Linked DNA regions of Homo sapiens. The protein of the gene in region 3 purifies or fractionates together with the protein of the main gene of each other region. This does not show direct contact. Each region holds a gene or a part of one and is shown on either strand. Other genes may lie near its edges.

What was found. The genes of interacting proteins can lie anywhere in the genome.
Region 1: the proteins of PRKAG2 (region 3) and PLCXD2 purify together in Homo sapiens (affinity purification with mass spectrometry, with the first as the bait; one large-scale study listed by BioGRID). This does not show direct contact.
Region 2: the proteins of PRKAG2 (region 3) and GPT purify together in Homo sapiens (affinity purification with mass spectrometry, with the first as the bait; one large-scale study listed by BioGRID). This does not show direct contact.
Region 4: the proteins of PRKAG2 (region 3) and MYH8 purify together in Homo sapiens (affinity purification with mass spectrometry; one large-scale study listed by BioGRID and IntAct). This does not show direct contact.

The regions. Positions count from the first base shown.
Region 1 is NC_000003.12:111,705,676-111,709,175, reverse strand, and holds part of PLCXD2 (PI-PLC X domain-containing protein 2), read right to left. Parts: intron 1,251-3,500; coding exon 790-1,250; intron 1-789.
Region 2 is NC_000008.11:144,502,653-144,506,939, forward strand, and holds the start of GPT (alanine aminotransferase 1), read left to right. Parts: upstream 1-1,487; 5' UTR 1,488-1,652; coding exon 1,653-1,814; intron 1,815-1,951; coding exon 1,952-2,041; intron 2,042-2,118; coding exon 2,119-2,227; intron 2,228-2,312; exon of another isoform or gene 2,313-2,345; coding exon 2,346-2,479; exon of another isoform or gene 2,480-2,514; intron 2,515-2,593; coding exon 2,594-2,837; intron 2,838-3,195; coding exon 3,196-3,275; intron 3,276-3,342; coding exon 3,343-3,479; intron 3,480-3,579; coding exon 3,580-3,754; intron 3,755-3,848; coding exon 3,849-4,004; intron 4,005-4,078; coding exon 4,079-4,191; intron 4,192-4,257; coding exon 4,258-4,287. UniProt on the Homo sapiens protein: Catalyzes the reversible transamination between alanine and 2-oxoglutarate to form pyruvate and glutamate. Participates in cellular nitrogen metabolism and also in liver gluconeogenesis starting with precursors transported from skeletal muscles.
Region 3 is NC_000007.14:151,874,316-151,878,532, reverse strand, and holds the start of PRKAG2 (5'-AMP-activated protein kinase subunit gamma-2), read left to right. Parts: upstream 1-1,417; 5' UTR 1,418-1,912; coding exon 1,913-2,026; intron 2,027-4,217. UniProt on the Homo sapiens protein: AMP/ATP-binding subunit of AMP-activated protein kinase (AMPK), an energy sensor protein kinase that plays a key role in regulating cellular energy metabolism.
Region 4 is NC_000017.11:10,419,151-10,423,268, forward strand, and holds the start of MYH8 (myosin-8), read right to left. Parts: upstream 2,801-4,118; 5' UTR 2,780-2,800; intron 2,557-2,779; 5' UTR 2,513-2,556; intron 1,108-2,512; 5' UTR 1,078-1,107; coding exon 868-1,077; intron 1-867. UniProt on the Homo sapiens protein: Muscle contraction.

The sequences.
Region 1 (3,500 bases), on a different chromosome or scaffold from region 3:
CCTCGTAAAGTTGTTTTGGTTAATGCATCTGCTGAGCAAGTGAGTAACTTTGAATGAAAGGTATGTCTTTTTTTTTTTTTTTTCCAGAGAGTGTAAATTAAACACTTTCCTGAAGCTCTTTTCTCCTACTGTCATCCTTTAGGATCAGAGTGGAATATATCTGAGGCCCACATTCCTCTTCCTGAGCGTGTCCCTCATGGTCCTAGGCTGGCAGGCTCTTCTCAACTTAAGCAGACTATGGAATGCTCTTACAGGCTGCAGCCCCTTCAACAGGCTCTTCCTTCCTTAACTCTCTCTCCCTCTAAGACCCAAATACTTTTATAATATTAACACTCCTGAGATGAATCACTATGTTTCAGTCAGCTAATACTTTTCCTAATCAGTCGATACCTTGGCCAGGATTATCTGACATTGAGTTGAAGGCAAGATGGAACAGACTATCCCTGAGGGGAACCAGAAGGGTAAAAATGGACCTCGGGAAACAGAGAATAGTAATGACCTATTGGCCCAATTTTACAACTTTGCCTTGGTTGGTTCTGGCCAGGCCACTAAAAGTCAATTAGATGTCAAACAGTTTGCTGGACAAGCTTTAAGTATTTGGCAGGTGTTAGCCCTGGCCCTTGAACCTATTCTAGAGCCCAGGAACTAGTTTGCATATGTTTAATATTCCAAACAATCCACTCTTTAGCCTAAGAGCCCTGGATTGAGTGATTTTACAGACGGCAATACAGGAAAAGCAGGAAGAGTTAAATTCTTGCTCTTGGAAGCTTATCTCTCCTTCCCTCCTACCTGGCAGTTCTTCTCCCACAGAGTTCGCAGCGTCAAACTTTCCACACTGCAGGCTGGGCACAGCTTGTTTCCAAAGGCCTCCTGGATCCGCAGAACCAGGCATTTGTGATGGGTCTCATCCATGGCATAGAAGTGGTTGAAATCCAGGAAGATAATCTCCTGGGGGTGCTGTGTAAGAAACGAGTCAATTTCCATCAGCCCATCCCAGACCTTGATGCCAAAAAGCCCATGGATGAAGTAGATCTCCTGGTCGGCATCCCCTGGTTTGGAAGACACACGCAGGTCAAAGTAGCGGATCCCAGCTTCCAGCTGTTCTCGAAATGTCAGGTTCTGAGTCACAGACCACTTCTTCATTAGCTTCTTCACCAAGGAGATCCTGGCGAGGCGTTTGATAGCTTGGGTTTGGTCAGGCCCCACTGGGGACTTTTCATCCACCCAGTAGCTGAATGAATCATGTGAGCCTGTACAAAGGAATACAGGTGAGGAAAGCAGATGAGACGGGAGCTGGGAAAAATAAGCCAATTGATGAGAAAACAAAACAAAACAAAAATTAAGCACCAAATAACATACTAAAACTGCAAATGAATAGTAGCAAAATTTGCCAAGCTTGCTAGGAATAAAATAAACACAAAGAAAAGTAATGTAGCAGCTTGTTAAGCCTGGGGTAATACTATAGTTTTCATATATTTTGCTGGCATAAGGCAAATTAATAAATATCCTTTTGCAAAGCTATTTAGAAATATGCTGAAAATAGGGGCTTTAAAATATTCATACAATTTGCTCCAGTAATTTCATTTCAGGAAAGCTATTCTGAGGAAATAAACTCTAACATTCAGGAAAACAAAGATGTCTGCCAAAGAATATTCATAATAGAGACAAACTGGAGATAATGCTTAAGTGTCTCTTATAGAAGAATGCTTTGTTGTGGTATATCCACTTTATTCATGCCATCATTGAAACAGAGGGTATGAAAACACTGTGTCTATCTCAACAATGCCGAGAAAGGGATTTAAATTCTAGGAAAGGCAGGATTTCAAGAAACTAAACTTGCTTTCTTTTTATGTTTTTAAAATATATAAAAAATTGTATATATTATTTTACTATTGTAAAAGTCTGAGTCAGTAGGAATGATTTATTGACAGATCAGCTAACCATTTCGATGGGCTCAACACAGTTTAGTTAATATGTCCCTCTTTTTGAATTCGTACCTCAATGAGCCAAAACTGCTATTAAATGGTCCAAACGCACATTCTGTTCCTCTGTCTTAACAAAGGGATAGTATGAAATGTTTTGTAAATGTCTGTTATGCCTGTTTGGTCTATAGTGCAGATTAAGTCTGATGTTTCTTTGTTGATTTTCTTTCTAGATAATCCATCTGTCCAATGCTGAAGAAGTCTGCAACTATTATTCTATTGGAGTCTACCTATTTAACTCTAATAATATTTGCCTCATAAATCTAGGTGCTCTGGTGTTAGGTGTATAAATATATTTACAATTGTTATATCCTCTTGCTGAACTGATCACTTTATCTTTATATAATGACCTTCTTTCTCTTTGTGTTTTTTTTTTTTTTTGCCTTAAAGTCTATTTTGTCTGATATAAGTATAGCTAATTTGCACACTTTTGGTTTCCGTTTGTGTGGAATATTTTTTTCCATCCCTTACTTTCAGTCTACGTGTGCCTTTACAGGTGAAGTGAGTTTTCTGTGGGCAGTATATAGTTGTGTCTTTTTTTTTTTTAATCCATTCAGCCAGTCCATATCTTTTAATTGGGGAATTTAACATTTACATTTAAGGCTATTATTGATAGATGAGGACTTAGTCCTTGTCATTTTGTTAATTATTTTCTAATTACTTTGTATATTCTTTGTACCTTTCTTCTTCTTTTATTGTTTAACTTTACTATAAGCAAACATAGAAGAAATGCTTCAAGACATTGGTCTAGGCAAAGGTTTCACAGCTAAGACTTCAAACACATAGGCAACAAAAACTAAAATAGACAAATGGGACTATATTAAACTGACGTCTCCACCCTAGCAAAGGAAACAATCAAGAGCGAAAAGACAACCTGTAGAATGGGAGAAAATATTTACAAACTATTCATCTTACAAAGGACTAATATCCAGAATATACAAGGAATTCAAACAACTCAATAGCAAAAAAACTAAATAATCAAATTAAAAAGAGGACAAAAGAATTAAATAGACATTTCTCAGAAAGAAGACACACAGATGGGCATGGTAGCTCATGAGTGTGATCCCAATACTTCAGGAGGCTGAGACTGGTGGATCGCTTGAGTCCAGAAGTTTGAGACCAGCCTAGGCAACATGTGTGAAACCCTATCTCTACAAAAAATACAAAAAAAGTAGCCAGGAGTGGTGGTGCACACCTGCAGTCCCAGCTACTCAGGAGGCTGAGGTGGGAGGATTGCTTGAGATCAGGAAGTTGAGGCTGAAGTGAATGACAAACATCGTACCACGGCACTCCAGCCTGGGTCAGAGTAAGACCCTGTCTTTTTAAGATGTTTGTCATTCACTTCAGCCTCAACCTCCTGGTCTCAAGCAAACAAACGAACAACAACAAAACCATATAAATAGTAAACAAACATAGGAAGCAATGCTCCATGTCGCTAATCATCAAGGAAATGCAAATCAAAACCACAATGAGGTATCATCCCTGCCCAGTTACAACAGCAATTATAAAAACAAAAAA
Region 2 (4,287 bases), on a different chromosome or scaffold from region 3:
GGCTCTGAGCTGGCTTGGCACAATGTGTCAGGGTGAGGGGGCCCCTTAGGGGCCTCAAGCAGGAGGGCTGAGGGCACCGCTGGTTCGTCTGTTCATGGTGGGCGGCTTTGTGTGGCCACCAGTGCTGGGTGGTGTGGGTTTGGGCTGTTCTCCCTCCTGGCTCAGCACGGGCCCGTCAGCCCAGTGTCCTTTGGGCCTGCCCTTCCCCTAGCATCCCTGGTTGGAAGGGTGTCCTCACAGGGCTGTGGGCGGGCCAGGGCTGGCTGCTGGTTAAATTTAGTGTGGGGGGTGGGGCAGCTGCCCAAGGTCCACCTGCCACCAGGGCTGCCACTTGGACTCCCTTGCCAGGGGGCGGGCAGGGGCTGGCTCTGCCTGGGGCCAGGCCCATGTTAACCTGTGCCCCGGCCTGGGGGCCAGAGGGGCAGGCCTGCGCACGGGGAGGCTGTTGTGGCAGCGGAACAGAGACGTGCACGGTGAGAGGCCTGGGGGCCGGCTGTCCAGGGCTCCCGATGGCTTTTCTCCCAGCCAGCAGGATCAGAGGAGCCAAGGTCCGACTTGGGCCTGGCTGGTTGCCCACAGCCCTGCTCAGAGGGCCGGCTCCCTGACCCCCATGGTTCAGGTTTCGGTGCCCGACGCTGGGGTGGGCCAGCGTGGAGCCTGGCCTTTCAGCTCAGCAGGCCTGTGGAGGTGGGGCTCTGACGGCCTATCCCAGCTCGTTTCCTACTCTCTCCTCCAATCGGGAACAAGAGGGCTGGAGAGCTCAGGTCACCCCTAGCCTCGGGTGTGTCCCAAGGGCAACCCCCAGCTGGTGCCTGGTGAAAGGGCATGACAGCAGCCACGGTGTGAGCTGTCCCAGGGCTCAGGGCTGGACTGCCTGGCTCCAGCCCCCTCCCCCAGCCCCTCGCAGTGCTCATCAGGGACCAAGGTCCAGCTACAGAGCTCTTGCAGCCTCTGGGCCATAGCTGCCAGCTCTGGAGGGTCCAGATGGAACCCAGAGCCTGAACACCCCTCCCCTCCCCCCAGCACCCCCTGGATTCCTGAGGCCTGGCTCAGTTAATAGGAGACAGGTCCGCTGGCCCAAGCAAAGATGCGGGTGCCACGAGGGCCAGGCCTCGGCCAAGCCCTGCTGGGGTAAATCCCAGCAGCCCAGGCTCCAGTCTCGCCTCGGGGGTCCCTCCTTGCCAGCTCTGCCAGCCCCTCAGGGCTGCTGGGCACCCCTTCACCTCCTGAGCACCCCAGGTGCTCAGCCCTCTCCCCCTCCCCCCATGTCTAGTCCCTCAGAGCTGTCCGGACTGACGTCTGTACCTACCCCCCATGTGGGTCTCCTGCTCTCCCTTCGTGGGGACACTAGGCAGGCACTGGGCCTTGCCCCAAGCCCCGCCTGCCACCTCACCCACTGCCTCTGCCTCCCTGGGGCAGAGCTGTTCCCAGACGGGTGGGGCGGGGCCCAACTGTCCCCAGCTCCTTCAGCCCTTTCTGTCCCTCCCAGTGAGGCCAGCTGCGGTGAAGAGGGTGCTCTCTTGCCTGGAGTTCCCTCTGCTACGGCTGCCCCCTCCCAGCCCTGGCCCACTAAGCCAGACCCAGCTGTCGCCATTCCCACTTCTGGTCCTGCCACCTCCTGAGCTGCCTTCCCGCCTGGTCTGGGTAGAGTCATGGCCTCGAGCACAGGTGACCGGAGCCAGGCGGTGAGGCATGGACTGAGGGCGAAGGTGCTGACGCTGGACGGCATGAACCCGCGTGTGCGGAGAGTGGAGTACGCAGTGCGTGGCCCCATAGTGCAGCGAGCCTTGGAGCTGGAGCAGGAGCTGCGCCAGGTATGGCCCAGGGCCCCTCGCTGCCCTCCAGGTCACAATGGGGTGGCCGAGTTGGCCCCAGCCCCACTGGCACATGGGACAAGGGCTGAGGGGTTAGGTAGGGCACAGTCTCCCTGCCTGCTCCCCTCCCCTCCCAGGGTGTGAAGAAGCCTTTCACCGAGGTCATCCGTGCCAACATCGGGGACGCACAGGCTATGGGGCAGAGGCCCATCACCTTCCTGCGCCAGGTGAGGCTCCTGCACTGCCCGGAGCACCCCCCCACCCCCAGCCCATGTGCCCTGGCCTCAGCACTCCGTCTTCCCAGGTCTTGGCCCTCTGTGTTAACCCTGATCTTCTGAGCAGCCCCAACTTCCCTGACGATGCCAAGAAAAGGGCGGAGCGCATCTTGCAGGCGTGTGGGGGCCACAGTCTGGGTGAGAGCCAGGGCCAGGAGGAAGCAGAGGGCCGCCCTGCCACTGGAGGAGGGAAGTCCCTTGGGAGGGCTGAGGAGAACTTCACCTGTACTTCCCATCCTGTCCTGCCCGAGTCCAGGGGCCTACAGCGTCAGCTCCGGCATCCAGCTGATCCGGGAGGACGTGGCGCGGTACATTGAGAGGCGTGACGGAGGCATCCCTGCGGACCCCAACAACGTCTTCCTGTCCACAGGGGCCAGCGATGCCATCGTGGTAGGCTGGGCATGGGCACCAAGACATTCCTGACACTGCAGAGGGGGCGCCCAGGGTGGGGGACAGGTGCGGCCCCAGGCCTCGCCAACCCTGCCTTCCCCTTCCTTTCCGCAGACGGTGCTGAAGCTGCTGGTGGCCGGCGAGGGCCACACACGCACGGGTGTGCTCATCCCCATCCCCCAGTACCCACTCTACTCGGCCACGCTGGCAGAGCTGGGCGCAGTGCAGGTGGATTACTACCTGGACGAGGAGCGTGCCTGGGCGCTGGACGTGGCCGAGCTTCACCGTGCACTGGGCCAGGCGCGTGACCACTGCCGCCCTCGTGCGCTCTGTGTCATCAACCCTGGCAACCCCACCGGTGCGTTCCCCGCCGCCCCGCCCCACTCCCCCCGCGCCCACGTTGCGTTCCCCGCCGCCCCGCCCCACTCCCCCCGCGCCCACGGTGCGTTCCCCGCCGCCCCGCCCCACTCCCCCCGCGCCCACGGTGCGTTCCCCGCCGCCCCGCCCCACTCCCCCCGCGCCCACGGTGCGTTCCCCGCCGCCCCGCCCCACTCCCTCCGCGCCCACGGTGCGTTCCCCGCCGCCCCGCCCCACTCCTCCCGCACCCACGTGCGCCCTGGCCCAGGCAGTGCCGGGTCCGCTGGACCCCGGCTGCCCAGCGGAGGGCAGTGCGCCCCCTTGGCTCACCCAGCACTGCTGCCTCCCCGGCACCCCAGGGCAGGTGCAGACCCGCGAGTGCATCGAGGCCGTGATCCGCTTCGCCTTCGAAGAGCGGCTCTTTCTGCTGGCGGACGAGGTGCGCGGCGCGGGGGAGCGGGAAGCCGGGCAACAGTCCGCCCCCGTGACGCCTTGCGCCCTTCCAGGTGTACCAGGACAACGTGTACGCCGCGGGTTCGCAGTTCCACTCATTCAAGAAGGTGCTCATGGAGATGGGGCCGCCCTACGCCGGGCAGCAGGAGCTTGCCTCCTTCCACTCCACCTCCAAGGGCTACATGGGCGAGTGCGTGCGTACGAGGCGGGTGGGGGCTCGCGGGCCATGGCCAGGCCCTCCTCGCCCGATGGGCCACCCCCTCCTCCGCACCTGACCTGGCCGTGCGCAGGTGCGGGTTCCGCGGCGGCTATGTGGAGGTGGTGAACATGGACGCTGCAGTGCAGCAGCAGATGCTGAAGCTGATGAGTGTGCGGCTGTGCCCGCCGGTGCCAGGACAGGCCCTGCTGGACCTGGTGGTCAGCCCGCCCGCGCCCACCGACCCCTCCTTTGCGCAGTTCCAGGCTGTGAGTTGGGGGCAGGAGGGGGTCCAGGTGACCTAATCAGGGGTGGGGGATGCCGAGTGCCGTGCCCTGATGGGCCCTCCCTCCGCGGCCACAGGAGAAGCAGGCAGTGCTGGCAGAGCTGGCGGCCAAGGCCAAGCTCACCGAGCAGGTCTTCAATGAGGCTCCTGGCATCAGCTGCAACCCAGTGCAGGGCGCCATGTACTCCTTCCCGCGCGTGCAGCTGCCCCCGCGGGCGGTGGAGCGCGCTCAGGTCAGGCGGGGGCGGGGCCTGCGGGGTGGGCAGGGGGGGCCGGGCATCCCTCTCTGACGGCTCTCCGTCCACAGGAGCTGGGCCTGGCCCCCGATATGTTCTTCTGCCTGCGCCTCCTGGAGGAGACCGGCATCTGCGTGGTGCCAGGGAGCGGCTTTGGGCAGCGGGAAGGCACCTACCACTTCCGGTGAGGCCTGGCCCTCACTCCCTGTCCCGCCACCCTGGCCCTTCACTCACTGTCAACTCCTTTCAGGATGACCATTCTGCCCCCCTTGGAGAAACT
Region 3 (4,217 bases):
AGAATATAAACCCACCCCTATGAGCCAGGGAACCACCCAAGCTGTAAGGATTTTGTGCAAGCTGCTGGAACTCGGGTTGGAAAAGCCACCCGGCAAGCAGCTGAAAGGAAGGATGCTTCTCCCTGCGTGGGCGCACGCCTGCTTCCTAAGAGATGATCCTTTGGGTGGGCTGATCATGCCTCCTCCTCTGGGGAGGGAGTCCTGCGAAAGCACGCACCTCAAAAGGAGTAAAGGCCCTATGGTGTCCCCAAAGCGACCCCTGTCGCGTTCTTTCTGCGGGTGGCCTCCCTGCATTACTGATTACTCGGAGCGGCTGAGCTGACGTCAGCATTCTGGGAGCGCCAATGACCTTTGGGGTCATCACATCCTCAGAAACTAGAGCAGGAGGGGAAGCGACCCCCAAGCCAGCACTCCCCCTACTTTCCACCAGGGAGCCGAGGTCGCGCCATCCTGGGGCGCATCTGGGGGTGGGGGACACACCAGCCCCCTCCCCCAACCCCTCTAGGGCCCTCGGCAGCAGGCGGTACTGGATGCCCACCCGGGGCTCTAAAGGACCTGGGCCGCACCGGGAACCCTCGCCCGGGTCTTCGAGCCCTCCCCTTCTCCCAATTCTTTCCGCAGTCTCAGGAGCCCCACGTTTCCCGCGGCGTGGGGACACGCACTTACCGCGGATCCACTGCGCAAACCTTGATGAACCTGAAAAAAGCAGGGTGGGGTGGGGTGGGGTGAGGGTGGGGGTGGCTAGACCCTGCTCGCACCCAGCGCCACGCACCGCTCTCTGGGCGGGTTCGAGTGCGCGCGCCGGGCGGGGCGGGACCCGGGGGCTGCGGTGTTTCGAGAAGCACGTGCTACTTCGCGCGCAGCGCCCCCGGAGACTGTGGGCTTCCTCGCTGCCTGGTCTACGGCAGGGCGGGCGCGGGGGCGTGTTTCAAAGGGTAGGGCACACAGTGAGACGCCGGGAGGCGGGATGGATCCGAAACCAGCTCGCAGCGAGTCCCAAGCGGCTGCGGCCGCCGCAGGGGTCTGGGCGCGGCGACGAGGGCGGCGTGGGGCGACGGGGAGCGGGACGGTGGCGCTGCACGCCGCGCACTTCCTGTTCAACACGCGCCGCCTCCCACCACCCGCGCTCCCCGAGCTTGCGTCGGTGCCAGGCCCGGCCCCTCACTGTCCCCTTGCGGTCCCCTGGGGCCGCGGCGCGGCGGGGGGCGAGGAGCGGGCGCCCTGCCCTTCTTGGCCCGCTGGACTCCGGGCGCCCCCTCCGGCGCGCAGGGCCGCGAGCGCCGCCGCCAGAACTTCTGCCAGCGGCCGCCCGTAGCCTAATTGCGCAGAGGGCTCGCCTTGCACCTCCTCTTCCCCCGCCGCCCTCCCTCTCGCCCAGAAAGGAGGACGGACCCAGCTGCAGGCTCCGAGCTGGTTTATTCTGCGGCCGAGGATTACATTTATGCACGAACGGGCTTACTGGTTCCAGATTCCCCACTTGGGCACAGGCATAGGAGGCTTGTTTTCCAAATTGCTGGTTTTAATTGCACCTGCCTTTCAGATTACCTCTGGGAATCTGTGGGAGGAGCCGAGAGGGTGGAAAATGTTTCTTAGCTTTGCAAAAGGAAGAAAACTTTGTCACCCAGCGGGAGACCTCAGCCACGAGTAACCCGGGGAGACACCAGAACCGGGACGGGCTTTGACTGATTTGCCTACGAGGGTTCCGTAGGAAAGGACGCTTGAATTCGGCGCTTCGGCGGCGGCGGCGGCCGCGCGAGTTCCCTGCTCACCCTCCCTCTCCGCGGAAGTCCCCACGAGGTGGCTTCAGGGTGTAACAGAGCGCGCGGCTCCAGTCCGAAGGCAGCGGCCGGGGGAGGGAAGGAGGGGACCGAACCCCCGAGGAGTTTCGCAGAATCAACTTCTGGTTAGAGTTATGGGAAGCGCGGTTATGGACACCAAGAAGAAAAAAGATGTTTCCAGCCCCGGCGGGAGCGGCGGCAAGAAAAATGCCAGCCAGAAGAGGCGTTCGCTGCGCGTGCACATTCCGGTGAGTCCCAGCACTCGGTCCCCTGCTCCCCAGCCCTCCTGTCGCTCCCGTCCCCGGCGCCGAAGCGGTTAACGCTGGACGCCCCGCGCGCGCCGTGCGTGCCCCTCCTGTCACTTCGGGCGGCTTGGGGAAAGGGTAGAGGGACAGGGCCCGAGCTGGGCTGGCGGAGCCGGGGCTCAATCTCTCTCTCTGCCCGCGTGCAGCCAGGGCTGGGGCTCCGCCTGGGGCGGGGGCTGGGCGGCTGCAGACTAGAGGGGGCGCCGGGCGCGGCGGGTGGGCGGCTGGGCGTAGCCCGGTATCCAGCCGGGTGCGGGTGCGGGGGGCGGTGCGTTGTGTTGTTTTGCTGAAAAGGGACGGTGTGGACTGCGCTCCGGGGAGGTGGAGCCCGCGCTCGGCTGCTGGAGACGGAGAGAGGGGAGGGGAGGGAGGAGAGGGGAGGGGCGGTGGGTGGGGAAAGCAGCGGGGCGGGGGTTGGGGGGAGCTGTGTAGCTGCGTCTTCCAATGCACCCCCTCCGCTCCAGTTTCTCTCCGGGCGTTTCTGGGCCTGGAGCGGGGGTCTCCTCTGCCGCCGTTCCCTTCCCCCGCCCCGGGAGTGTACTTTGGGTCTCTGTGGTATTTGGGGGCTCGGAGCTCCCTAATCCGTGCAGGCTGCATTGAACTTCAGCCCCGTCCGCGCCAGCCGCCCGGGAGGACATTGGCGACTCGGATCTGCCTGCGGCTTCACTTTGTCCAGCCAGAGGGGCGGCGGGCCGCGTAGTGGTTCTCTTTTCGGAAGGCGCCCCGGTAGCCCGCGGCCACTGTTCCTCGCCTCCACGTAGCGGGGTAGGGCGGTGGGAGGTGTGGCCCACTGGGTCACACCCTCCGCCTCAGCCAACCAAGTAAATGTTTGTGTACACACACACACACACACACACACACACACACACACACACACACACACACACCAGAGTGCTCCGTAGAGAAAGTTATTTTGCTCTCCCGGGGCAGGGTGGGAGTGCGCAGTGAATGGGCTGTCCGGACCCCTCATTAAAGCTAATCCTTCCCGACAGGGTCAGGCGCAGCTGGCATGGCCGAGGCAGGCCACTCACTTCCCACTGTGAATCCCAGGGCGCACTGCCCCGTGTTTGCTGAGCCACCCTTCTTTTAGACGCCCCGCTAAGGTCCTCCTGTGTAAACTCCGGCCCACACGTGCCTAACGCTTGGGTGAAGAGGGTGGAGTCCAGGGGCGGGTCTCCAGACACCTGATGCCAAGTAGCCCCACAGGGGCCCTGGGCCAGCCCTCCCTGGCTGGAAAGCTCTGGGGCTGGAAACTTGGACCCCTGGCTGCTGTGTGGCCCCCACGGTGGTGACTCGATTATGCAGGAATAAGTGTTCTATTTGAAAATGAAACATTCTTGTTTACATCTCTCATGTAAGACATTTAAAACCATGTTCGTGAGTTAAAAGTTAGATGTTGCTGCCACAAACCTCTTAAACAGTGATCACTTGAGCTAACCGTGTAACTACTGTTTCTCCCATTTGTCAAATGCAGGAAATAATACCCATTTTTCCTGCTTTATACGGATATTGAAATAAAGTAATTCATGGGAAAACTCTTTTTTATTGTTTTTTTTGTTTTGAGTCAGGGTGTCACTCTGCTCCCCAGGTGGGAATGCAGTGGTGCAATCATGGCTCACTGCAGCCTCAACCTCCCCAGGCTCAAGTGATCCTCCCACCTCAGCCTCCTGAGTAACTGGGACTACAGGCATGTGCCACCACACCCATCTAATTTATTTATTTTTTTTGTAGACATGAGGTTTTACCATGTTGCCCAAAGCTGGTCCACATGAGCTGGGCTCGAGTGACCCGCCCACCTTGACCTCTCAAAGTGCTGGGATTACAGGCGTGAGCCATCACACCCATCCCGGGAAAACTCTTGACAAGTGTAAAGTGTCCTATAAATGTATGGCTTATACATATACATATACATATACATATACATCATATACATATACATATACATCATATACATATACATCATATACATATACATCATATACATATACATATACATCATATACATATACATATACATCATATACATATACATATACATCATATACATATACATATACATCATATACATATACATCATATACATATACATATACATCATATACATATACATATACATCATATACATATACATCAT
Region 4 (4,118 bases), on a different chromosome or scaffold from region 3:
TGCTTCAAGTGATTGTCCTGCCTCAGCCTTCTGAGTAGCTGGGATTGCAAGTGCCCATCACCATGCCCAGCTAATTTTTGTATTTTTAGTAGAGACAGGATTTCGCCATGTTGGCCAGGCTGGTCTCGAACTCCTGATCTCAGGTGATCCACCTGCCTCAGCCTCCCAAAGTGCTGGGATTACAGGCGTGAGCCACTGCGCCTGGCTAAGACCAGTTCGTTTTAATGGTTGGAGGTAGGGTTTATGTTTGCCTGTATATTTTGGTACAAAACTATAATCACACATACTTCTCATTATATTATTTAATGTCCTCTTAAAAAAGGCATGAAATATATTCATTTCAGAGTTTAATGTTAAGAAAACCTGTTTCCTATGATGAGCTAGGACACTATCTTTTTAAAAGATTTTTTCCTCCCACATTCTCTTATCCCAGATTTATCAGTTTATATCCTTTTTTTCTTATTTTAGTAGGCTAAATTTTTATTTTTTTCTTTCATTCATTAAGAAACTTCATGTTTTTGGAAGTAATGGGGATATTAATACATTATTTAACTAAGTAAATATTTAACTTCTGATAGGAGGAGCTTGTTTTCATTTCCCTCAAGTTTGGACATTCAGACTAGGAAGTGGGGAATTGAAGGGAAATGGTGAAGGCCATACATAGTGGGGTGAGGTCCTGTGCGAAGTTGGGAAGGGAAGACATGAAGGTACTGCTGTGAATTTCTTTTGCCTTCCACATCTAATGTCTCAACACTGACTAGAAGGGTGTTTGCATTGGCAACAGGCTTGGAGATTCCCAGTAAGTTAGGCTTCAACTTTTGAACCAAGAAATAAAATGGGGAGTATTTTCTCCCTGTTTTCACTTACTGCTCCACCTTCAGTCTTTACGGTTACTTTCCCTCCTTCTTTGCTTTGTATAGTGCTCTTCACATAGGATTCCTTGGGCTCCGCCACAAAGACAGATGTTTTAGCATCAAACGGCTTGTTTTGGGCCTCAATCCGCTCCTTTTCTGATTTTCGAAGGTAGGGAGCAGCTTCGCCAAAAACAGCCATCTCAGCGTCTGAGCTCGCACTCATGGCTGCGATTTATTTAGCAAAGGATTCTGCCTAGGGAGGAGAGAAACGGGAGAGAGAGATATAAAAAGCAGAAGTCACAAATGTGAGTTAGGATTTGAAATGAAAGAAATGTTGAACATAGCCTGTGCTGTAACTATTCCTCCAAACTGGCACTCCCCAGTGTTCTAACATAGTCTAAAGGACAAGTATGGAGTGAGACTGTAATTTGAGATTTCATTTTTAGGACTGTGAATTTCCTTTTCAGATCACATATCTTGATCCTCAGGGATAGGGTACCTACAATTGAATTAGAATGAAACCTCTACAGCTAAAACTATTGATGGATTGTTTTATAGCAACTGTCATTATTTAATTTCCTCTCCTCTTTCTGCATAATGTTTGTCTATGCCATATGCCAGGACAATCATATGGTGAGAAAAGAAAGTTTGTCTTGTTCAAATGAAGGTTCATATTTTCAAAGCTATCAAAAAATCTTTGCCTTTTAAGATGGCCATTTTCTCTCATAAAGCAAATAATTATTTTTAACATCTTTATGTTGATATTTGGTGTTGTATCTCTCAGTGGATTGTTAGAAGAACATAATACATTCTAATACTCTGGATTTTTTGTAATTTGGGTTGTTCCCAACAGACTTAGCATTGCCTTGATTCCAAAATCTTTTTTGACATGAGAGATTTCAGCTGTCAGTTAACAGATCTAACCACAGAGGAATGAGAGCTTCAGCACAAAGGCCCTTCTTCCCACATAAATTCCATGGGTTTCTTTTCTTTCCACCCAGAAAACAGAGAAAAAAGTTTTAAGAGTACATCACATGCATGTAAGCCATTGTCTTCTGATTAATAGATAGGCCTCTGCAATGTGGACATGTTAGATTGGTTGAGTTTTTCCTTTATTTTCAATTAGAAAGTTACTTAGGGAAGGGCAGGATTCCTCTTAAATTAGTCATGGTATTTAACACCCGGTGGATGTAATACTTGCGACCTGTTAAGTAAATAATAATAAGTCTTTCTAACAACAAATAACAAATAATCAAAGGTAGCTAAAATATTTATATTTATATTTCTAGGTAAAAATCTTTCTGGAGTCTTTAAAAATGTCTATAAAATGTCCTAAGTCCTCAATGCTTTGCCATAGAAGAAGACTGGCATGGACTAGTCTATTGCCACTGGACAGTTCTAAGCACAGCTGAGAACTCACTGTTGAAGCTAATTCTGTCCTAAACGGTCTTTGAATCTTGGAACCCAAATGAGGATAGTCTCTGAGAAGAAGACATTTTGAAAAAGTTATTTTCTAGCATTTATAAACACTCACTCGGAAACACTCTTTCCTGATATAACTGCAAAAACATGGAAATGGTGTATAATTCAGGATTGTTCACAGCTTCATTAGACTATATCCCCTCTGTCATCAATAAATTAATAAAGCCAAGTCTTACCTCTGGAGTTCCAGATAAAAATGCAGGTTCAGAAGTGTTCCACTCTGTAAAACAACAAGCTTCTTATTAGTGATGCTCCGAAATTCCAATATTATAGTTACAGAATTGTTATTATAGTTACAGAATTGAAGTTTCCCTACCCCAAAGCTTGGTTCTATGAAGACAAAAGTTAAGATTGAGAGAGCAGTTTAATGCTCACAGATAACTACGAGGTCAGCTCTTTTCCCCACCTGGGGTTTTTCGAGTTCCAAGGCCTTCATCACTTACCTCTGGGTTCTTGGTGGAAATAAGGCACAAGGGGCAGTCCTGCTTATATAGGAACTAATGTGCTGATGCTGCAACTACCTCCTCTTTGTTAGGGCAAGACATTTGGCAACATGAACCCTCAGCATAGTTTGTAGTGACATTTGTCATGTTTGGATATAATTAGAAGTATTCATATCATTTTGTGTATGCAAACCAATCTCCTATAAATAATTTGACAGAGACCGATCTGCCAGCAGAGAATGCTTTCTAGTGTGCTGGGAAGGGAATCTTTGACAGTGCCTGATGGGGCCTCAGAGTAAGTTCTTAAGAGCTATATTCAATTTGGCAAACTCTTTCATGCACGCCTGTGGTAGCCAAATGATCAGATACCCGGGGCACACGGCTGTCAGGGCCTTAAGCACGTTTCCTTATTTGCTACCACGGGAACCCCCCACTGCATTCCCTTGGGCCACTACAGATGCTCACTCTTGAAGTCCAGGCTTAGACAGCAGAGATTCTACCTTGAGTCTCCACCATTGGGCCAGTGCCCACTCATCTAACTTTGAAAAACATTATTAGTAGAAAATAATATGTTTATTACAGAAAAAAATACAGGTAAGTAAAAAAAGTCTCTGTAATCTCTAATGCAGAAATAAGATAGAGGCGTATAAGTGGGATCATATTATAGATGCATATATAGTACATGTGTGCCTTGTAATATGCTTTAATAATTAATATATCATATCACTAATGTAATTTATACCCTATTCTTTAAATAAATTATGATTTTTTTTAATTAAACTCTTTCCTTTTTTTAAGGTCAGATATATTGAGGTATAATTTACATAGAGTCAAATTCACCCTTTTAAAGTGACAGTTTTATGAGGTTTTTTGCTTTTATTTTTAAAAATTTTTAAACTTTATAATAAAATTTACTTCTTTTGTTGTATGATTGTATGAGTTTTTATACACGTATTGATTCATGTAGCCACCACCACAGATAGGATGCAGAACAATTCCAGGCCTATGGGTTTGATAAATATATGCAGGTGTGTAACCTCTTACACTGTAATTACATAAAAATTAAAGCCTTAGAGATTAGGCTAAATTTTCCCTTTGATGAACACTCACAATGCTGGTATCTCCCTTTTCTCCCAAGGTAACTACGGATACCCGTTTAGTTTGTAATATTGCAGACCTTTTCTGTACATTTACATATGTATTTTCTGGGAAAATATAAATTAGTAAAACTGGTCTAAGGAAATTGGGCCATAGAAAATTTATAATATATAATATAGATGTTTAAAATATAGATAGTATGATTATTTATTTACAAACTTTCTTTTTTCATTCTACACTC